3 separate regions of the Homo sapiens genome follow, and regions 2 and 3 are each linked to region 1. Evidence: fine-mapped expression QTL. A gene starts in region 1. Each other region holds a variant in brackets. All regions are shown on one strand. Distances are between the middles of the regions.

What was found. PIP is the estimated chance that this variant, and not a neighbour inherited with it, causes the effect. A credible set is the group of variants that fine-mapping cannot tell apart.
Region 2: its variant is the best candidate, but not a certain one, in a credible set for the expression of TRAF1 in whole blood (TOPMed, PIP 0.62).
Region 3: its variant is the best candidate, but not a certain one, in a credible set for the expression of TRAF1 in cerebellar hemisphere (GTEx, PIP 0.63).

What each region holds. Positions count from the first base shown.
Region 1 is chr9:120,925,245-120,928,005 of GRCh38, reverse strand. TRAF1 (TNF receptor associated factor 1) reads left to right here and starts at 1,210. Exons shown (of 8, transcript NM_005658.5): 1 at 1,210-1,456; 2 at 1,705-2,070. The coding sequence starts at 1,931. RefSeq lists enhancers at 932-1,251, 1,592-1,931, 2,392-2,461, 2,058-2,581.
Region 2 is chr9:120,891,150-120,893,910 of GRCh38, reverse strand. It overlaps a transcript of PHF19 not described here. Among named protein-coding and RNA genes, the nearest start is that of PHF19, 15 kb to the right of the region's middle. RefSeq lists an enhancer at 1,071-1,290. The variant C/T (reference allele first, on the strand shown) is at 1,219.
Region 3 is chr9:120,334,450-120,337,210 of GRCh38, reverse strand. The region is part of intron 2 of LOC105376253 (a long non-coding RNA gene); the gene reads left to right. Among named protein-coding and RNA genes, the nearest start is that of MIR147A, 91 kb to the right of the region's middle. The variant GC/C (reference allele first, on the strand shown) is at 1,488.

The DNA.
Region 1 (2,761 bases):
TGATGTCCGTGGGAATGAGCAGGTAGAGAGGGTGGTATTGAGGCCGGAGGGGAGAGAAGGGACCCACAGATGGGGAGAGAAGTCTTGGGTGCCTGTTTTATCCCAAACCAGGGGAAGGAGGGAACAGGTAGGGCTGGCTGCAGGAAAGCTTGCAGGTATGGGGTACACAGTTAAAAGGGAGTGTCTTCTGATAGTCTTGATGCAGGCCTGGAGGTCGTTTGTTATGGGGGTGGAGGTCCTGATGTACATTGTGGCGGTAAGATGCCGTGCTGTCTTTGCCACCAGCCTGTGGCAGCCCTGGTGTTACACCAGGGCAGGTGGGCAGTTTAATGTATCTCAGGCCAGATGACCTGCCCTGCCCACCTGTTGAGGCTCCAGTAGATAGACGTGAAAGCACAGTATAAGCATAATGCACCACTTTAATCCTTTTCTCTGAGGAGCTGGAAGGCCTGTAGTCACCATCTGAGCCAAATGTCATTCAAGTACTTCACTTGGGTTACACACCACACTTTGACCCACTATCTCATTTAGTCATCACAACAAATGGGTGAAATAGGTATTATTGTCCCATTTTACAGATGCAGAATCTGAGTTTCAGGGAAGTTAAGGACTTTGTCCCAGGGCCCACAGTTAGTAAGCAGTGGACCCAGGATTTCAACTCAGCTCTGTCTGACCTCAAAACCCATGATCTGAAACCACTGTGAAAGTTTGCAAAACCTCTGTAGCAGCCAAGCAGGATGGAAAGATGTGTAGGGATTGTCTTCTCCATTTGATAGATGAGACAAGAGCTGGGTACTCTGATCTCCATCCCAAGCACACAGAGCTTGGGGCCCCACAGCCCTGGTGTGAATCCCACTCCACTACCAGAGGCTGTGTGCCTTTGGACCAGGCATCTTGCTTCTCTGACCCTATATACAGCTGCAGAAGAATTCCTTGCAGGTTGCTGTAAGGATTTGGAGGGAAACTGTTGCCCAGCACACAGTACACATTCTGGGAGCCATCGTTTCCCCAGTGCACTTTTCCTGCAAATGTGGATCTACATCCCACTTGGATGCTGAGACCAGCTGCTGTGATCTTGCATTTGTTTAGCGCTTTGTTCTCCTTGAGGCAGTAAAGTGGTGGCACCTGACCGGAGCATGTAGCCACCTATGACTTCCTGAGTGGGGTGGTGTGGGGAGGGCCCTGAGGAGTCTGTGGTCCTAGGCCTTGGATTTCATCAGGGCTTTCCTGCTCCTTCTGGTTGCCTCAGTCCCAGGCAAGATAGGGTCCCAGAATCTTACAGCCCAGAGGCCACCTGTTGCAACTTCTTTTTTACAGATGGAGTCATCAGAACCCACTGTGAGGAAGTGACTTCTCCTTGAGGTCACCCAGACACTCCAAACAGAGCAGAGCAAAAGCGCCTAGAACTTGAAATTTTGGACCTGTCTCCAACACCCTGGGGATTTCCACCAGGAAGGTGAGCACCCCCACTGAGAATTCCAGGCTGCTCAGAGGTGCCAGGGAACACAGACCAGGGACCAGCTGTGGCCCCCTCCTCCGATGTGCCCAGGGAAGTGGGGGAAGCCAGCGGCAGCCTGCGATTCTCAACCAGGGGAACTCTCACTGTGCTTTCTGAGAGTCTGTGACACGGGTCATTTTCTCTGACTTGCTCTCTTGCTTTTTCTCACTCTAAAAAAAAAAAAAAATGACTGGACACTCCTAAAGCCTTCAGTCACCATCCAGGGGATTTTTATCGCCACAAAGGGTAATTCCTGCTCCATCCCTGCTGTGACTCAGCTGTGACGTTGAACCACACAAGCCAGAGAGAAGAAGATAAAGTCATCAGAGCTCCTACTCACCAGAGAGTGAGGCCCAGGCCAGGACTCCACAAGGCTGGTCCCCTGCCCTGGAGCAACTTAAACAGGCCCTCTGGCCAGCCTGGAACCCTGAGATGGCCTCCAGCTCAGGCAGCAGTCCTCGCCCGGCCCCTGATGAGAATGAGTTTCCCTTTGGGTGCCCTCCCACCGTCTGCCAGGACCCAAAGGAGCCCAGGGCTCTCTGCTGTGCAGGCTGTCTCTCTGAGAACCCGAGGTGAGGTGATGGAGGAGCGGAGGGTGGGCAGAAAGTGGGTGCCAGGGAGGGACCCCTGATGGGAGGTGAGGGGCAGAGGAGCCTGTGACTTCAGGCGGTGACTTTTCTTCTCTGGGCCTCAGTTTCCACACCCTTTTCTCACACTCCCTGACACTGCCCCTCTGGCTGTGGTGGAAGGAGAGGAAGCCACAGAAAGGCATCAGCTCCCACAGGGGAAAGCCATCCACACCGAGGAGAGCCTCGAGGCTGTGAGGCCACTGTCTCACTGTGTGGTCTGGTGCTCTGCTAATGTCCCTAAGCCGCAGCTCGCTTGTCTGTAAAGCTGTTTTCTGTGTCATAGAATTGTTAATGAAGCCCAATGAATAATAATCACAAAAGTCCTTATAATAACAAATATAAACCTCTTGGTGAATGACAAACTGTTAGACGAATATCTCTCCTTCCACAGCATTGCTCATCACCTCAGACCGTTTGCTGGGAACCCTTTTGGAGGGGACAAAGAGATCGATATATATTTGTGTATTTAATGATACTTAAAATATTAACAACCCAGAAAGGCATGATATCAGTACTATTGTGGACATCCCTCTTTAAGCAATTATGCACCTACTGTGTGCCAAATGCTCTGCCCTTGGGTCCTCAGCACAACTTAGAGGGGTGGATACTATTATGATCCTATTTTACAAATGAG
Region 2 (2,761 bases), 34 kb after region 1:
GCTACACTTTGAGAACCACTGCCCTATGCAACAGTGCCTCTTATGAATAAATTTTAGGCCCTTAGGGAAACCTACAACTCACCATAGACCACCTTCCATCGCAGGGATCTATATGATGTATTTTCTCCCTCGTAACAGTATTAGAGAGTTGCTTTCCTGACTGTCTGCCTGGTGTCCAACCCTCAGAGGGAGTGAGCCCCAGACACTACATTCAGTCATCTCTGAGTGCACCTCCTGTGCACTGCATGACGTGTGCTTTCTAAAGCATGCGTGCATCTGTCAAGCAAAAGGTCAAGGAACCGTTCAAAGATGAATTTGCTCACTTAAGTGATGACCAGGAGAGGGATCAGTCAGGGCTGGGAAGCTTGCAGAAAACTGCCAGAGGCTTCCAGAAAGGGAATGTACAGGGCTAGGGCTAGAGATTGGATGACGGGGGCAGACAGGACAGGGTCTTTAGCACATAAGCATGCTGAGAGGGGAGTGATGGGGCAGCCACACTCAGACAGGGAGCCACCTGCCATCACTGCTATAATCAGAGGGGCCCTGGTGTGGAGGGGAGCAGAGACCTGGGACAAGGAGCTGAGGGAATCGAGAGCTTCTGGAAGGCCTCCCCATTTTATTGACCCAGTGAATCCATGTGGTTTCTCTGTCACACTCTAGCTGGCTTGAGCAAAGGGAGAGCGTCCTCACTCATGTTGCACACATTACTGCCTTTACTAAGTCATTTAACAATGACATTCATAGATGAGGGTATTTCTGGTGTTGAAATAATCACAGCTGCCACTTATTAAGTGCCTGTTACATGCTAGGCACTTTACATCATCTTACTCAATCCTCCCAGCAACTCTGATAAGGTGGCACTGAGATTGTCCCCATTGTACAGACGAGGAAACTGAGGCTAAGAGAGGTTAGTCAGCTTGGCTAAGGTCCCAGTCGCTAGGAAATGGCAGGGCTATTGTCTTTCCATCTCTAAACTGCTGCTTTCCACTCTACCATCCTGCCCTCATTTCCTGAACACCTGCTCTGTGCAAGGCCCTGTGTGCAACCACAAAATGAATCATTCAAGTAGTCATGTATTCAATAACCCTTTTTTTCAGCACTTACTATTTTTATGGGCTTATTTATTTATAGCATGCCTTATTTCAGAAAGCACTTAACTTCTTTATTTGATATACAAGCATAAAATTTTACAGGAGTGGTCATGTGACAAGCATCAAA[C/T]GAAAAACAGAAGTTGGAAAGGTCAGAAGCACCCAGGAATGACAGGTATACAAGTGTGGACCTTGAGGTCCTATATGCCATGGGGACAGGCCACAAATTGCCCTCTGACCTTTCTAGCAGCTAAAACTTGATCCCACGCAATTCAGTGTCCATAAGACACTGGCACACCATTGCTGAGGCAAATCAAAACTCTATTAGGCCCTGAGACCTGAGAGGTATTTTTTTAGAGAGTTGGCATGAAGAGAACACTGTTAAACGTGAGGAACAATGTCCCCAAACAGCCTCCCAATTGCACGTACGGCACAAGTCTCAGGGGCCGTTTCCTGTACCCGCTCCCCACCGCCTCCCCACTCCTACTCCGTGCTGGCCCAAGTCCCATAGCAGGAAAACAGCTCAAAAAAGAGAGAGCCGAGACAAGGCCAGGCAAGCACACCACCCTCTAGCTTCATCCACGTGTGGGGTTTGCCGCAAACATTGGTAATAGATGCTAAATTCAGGTCCCAGGTAAGTTTTGTTTGGTCTGAGCTGTGTACTTAAATGGCTTGAATTAGTTGTCAGCTTTAAACAAGTTTCACCTTTTTAAAAATTCAGATTTTTGGCATTCTCTTTTTAAAAAAGAGGGACTTGACAACATGGGGCCCACATTCCCAAAGGACAAGAATTTGCTAGAGCCAGTCGTTTTCCAGTCCCCGCATGGTCCCCTGGAGGCCTTTCTTTGCTTTGAACTTTCCTACCTGGCTCTGCAAGGCGTCAGGGGTTTGCAGCCTGTTTTAGGATGTTTTGAGCCCTGGCACATTTGTGTGCAGAAGGATCACCAGGAGACTTGTTTATAGCACAGGGTCCCTGGTCTGGCTCCTTGGATTTGGGGTGGGGCTCAGACAGGCATCCTTCTACCAGGTGACTGTGATGCTTCCGTCTCTCCTAACAAGCACGGAAGACTGGGTGGGGCCTGTGGGGGACTATACAGCTGCTCAATGCTACTGACTCAGATAAACAGATGACTAGTTTTCTTTCAACACAACAAATATGGCAAATATAGTGGGGTTCCGAGTTCAAGGTTATACTCCCCGAGGTGCCTGGAGTGCAGCTCCTCTAAGTGGCTGGGTGGGTCTTGAGTCGTGTGCTGTAAATTATGGTGGCGCTCCACCTGGGCTGCACCTTGAACCACCCGGGGAGCTTTTCAACCCACACTCTTCACCCCATGCCTAGGCCACATCCAGGCCAATCAAACCAGAGTCTCTGAAGATAAGAACACAGGCATCAGCATGTTAAGGTTCCCGGGGTGATCCCAAAGTACGGCAGGTGTGCGGGCTTAAGATTGAGCAAGGTTCTCTAGGCCAATACCTTCTCTAGATATTGACTGTAGCTGGACCAAGTTCCTCAGAGAGGGGAGGGGAGGGAAGGAGAGGAGAAGAAGGGGAAAGGAGGGGAGAGGAGGGGAGAGAAGGGAAGAGGGCGGGAGAGGCAGATGAGTAAATGGATCCTTACACTAACTGTGATGAGCAGAAACCCAGGCGCTCTGGGGCATGAGCAGGGATACCTA
Region 3 (2,761 bases), 590 kb after region 1:
CTGCCCTCCTGCTTCTTGAAGGCTCTCAGCACATCATGGCCTTAGCTCCCCTTGGTGGAGAGGAGTCAGGTCCCTGGGTCACCTGGGAGCCAGGCCTGGGATGAGTGGAACCCAAGATCACATGAATTATTTCTAATCATGCCATCTGCTTCCTATCAAATGCCGTCCTTCTTTTCTTTCTTCCACCTTCTCTTCCTTCCTCGGACTTTAGTTGAGCATTTCTTCTGTTGCAGGCCCTGTTCTGGTCACCAGGGGTCCAAGATAGAATGAGACACTGTCCCTGCACTCCAGGGCCTCCCAGTGCGGAGTGGCAGACAGGTGAAAAAGCAAACACCTCCATGTCCTGTGGGAGGCACTGGGGTCAAGGAGACCCAGGACCACATGGAACCCCACTGAGGCCCCAGAGGAGGCAGGGCCCTGGCTGCGGCCCCAGGGAGGCATTAATAGAGTCTGCTCATGTTCCTCGTGTAGTCGCACCCCTCATCTTTCTGACTCCCCACCTTGAGGCAAAATCTGGGAAACAGTTTCCCTTTTAGAGAACAAAGGATGGAGCGTGAGGCCAGCCTGATGCATTTACAAAGCCTTCACAGAAAGTGCTGGCAAGGGGCCCAGAACACAGGAATAAACTTCATACCTGGCCAGTCTCAGACACACAGCAGTTGGTTCTTTGGATTGATATTCTGCTCAGAGCTTTGGTTTCATTTATATCCTCCTGAAATTGGGGCCATTTTCTTCCTTCTGTCTTTGGCAAACTTGACTTAATCTTATGTCATACTTAGGACAACTCCAGGCCCATGGTCTCTCAGTGCCCCGGGCTTTACCCTGGGTGAAGAGGCATAGAGACCTTGTACTGTGGCTCGGGGGAGGGGGAAGAATGGGAATCTCAGAGAAGCCCCTTTCTTTCTAACCTGTTTTTATTGAGGTGAAGTTCACATATCATACAATTAACCATGTACAGCTTATGATTCATCATGCTGTGTAACCATTAGCTCTTTCTAGTTTCAGAACATTTTCATCACCCCCAAAGGAAACCCTGATTCATTTGGTGCTCACTCTCCTCCTCTGCCCCGGTGATCACTAGTCTGCTTTCTGTCTCTATGGATTTGCCTATTCTGCACATTTCATGGAAAAGAAATCATATAATATATGACTGTTATGGGCATATGTTGAAGTCCTAACTTCCAGTACCCCAGAAGTTTTCTGTGTTTGGAGGCAGAGTCTTTAGTAATTAAATTGAGGTCATTAGGGTGATCCCTAATCCGACCTGATTGATGGCTCTTGTAAGAAGAGGAGATTAGGACACAGACACACACAGTGGGAAGACCCCGTGAGGACACAGGGAGAAAGTGGCCATCCGCAAGCCAAGGGGAAAGACCTCAGAAGAAACCAACACTGCCAACACTTTGCTTTGGATGTCTAGTCTCCAGAATCACGAAGAAATGAATTTGTTGTTTAAGCCACCCAGCCTGTGGTACTTTGTTATGGCA[GC/C]CCTAGCAAACTCATACAGCAACTTGAAAAAAATAGACTTTATTTTTTTAGAGCAGTTTTCTGTTCAGAGCAAAATTGAGCAAAAGGTACAGAGGTTTCCCATATATCCCCCAGCCCCACATATGCACAGCTTCCCTGATCAACATCCTATAGTGACAGGGCCATTGTAGGATGCTTTCAAGGTTCATTCATGCTGTAGTATCTATCGTTACTTAATTCCTTTTGATAGCTGGATAGTATTCCATTGTCTGACTATTCCCCAATTTGTTTCTCCATTCCTCTGTTGATGGACATTTGTGTTGTTACCACCTTTTGGCTATTGTGAATAATGTTGCTATGAACACTAGCGTACACATTTCTATGTGGACAGGTGCTTTCATTTCTCTTGGATATATACCCAGGAGTGGAATTGCTGGGTCATACGGTAATTCTATGCTTAACTTTTTGAGGTGTTTATAGCCTTTTTCCTTGACAACAATTGTTTACAGTGTACCAATCGACTGTCCAGAACCCCATATAGTGTTGTAAAGAAGAACGTGATTCTGATGATGAACTGCCCAGTTCATACTATGGATTCAGTCCTTCCTAGGTGGGGGACGTTGGGCAAGTTAGTAAACTCTGTCACTCATTTTCCTGAGGTGGACCTTAGACGATGGTTGTGTAGATTAAACGGAAATGGATGCAAAGGACTTAATATATATGTCATTCAGTAAGTGTTTGCTGCTTCAAAATCTCTGAACGTATACTTAGGCACATAGCAAGTGCTCGAATTACTGGCTGTTTTTATTATTGTAGTTCACCTTGAAGGATCTGGACATGTGACAATGTCAGGGAAATCTAGGAAGAAGAAAGAGTGAGTCAAGGAATGGTTTAGGGACATATTGGGAAGGTGCATTTGGCTGGAGTGAGGCATAGGAGAGGAAGTAAGTAGGGGCCAGACTTCAGAAGCCTTGAGGACAACCTACTCTTAGTAGCGCCTTGAATGCCAACCTTGGTCTCAGTCCTGGAAGTTCCAGAGCAGAGGGTCAGATGTCACTGAGATCAGCGGAATGAGGGTGGGGTCAGTTTGCCCTCTCACGTGTGAATGGGTAGGAAGCCCTTAGTAACTGCAGCTTTGCTTGCCATGGTTTATGATACTGTAGCTAAATGGCTATACTCGAAATTTTCAAAATTTGTGGGCAAGTAGAGATTTGTTTAATGCAGAATTTTCTTACACCAGAGCCAGAAAAATGTGCCCTTAACATCATGATAACTGATGGAAAGTCCATTCCAT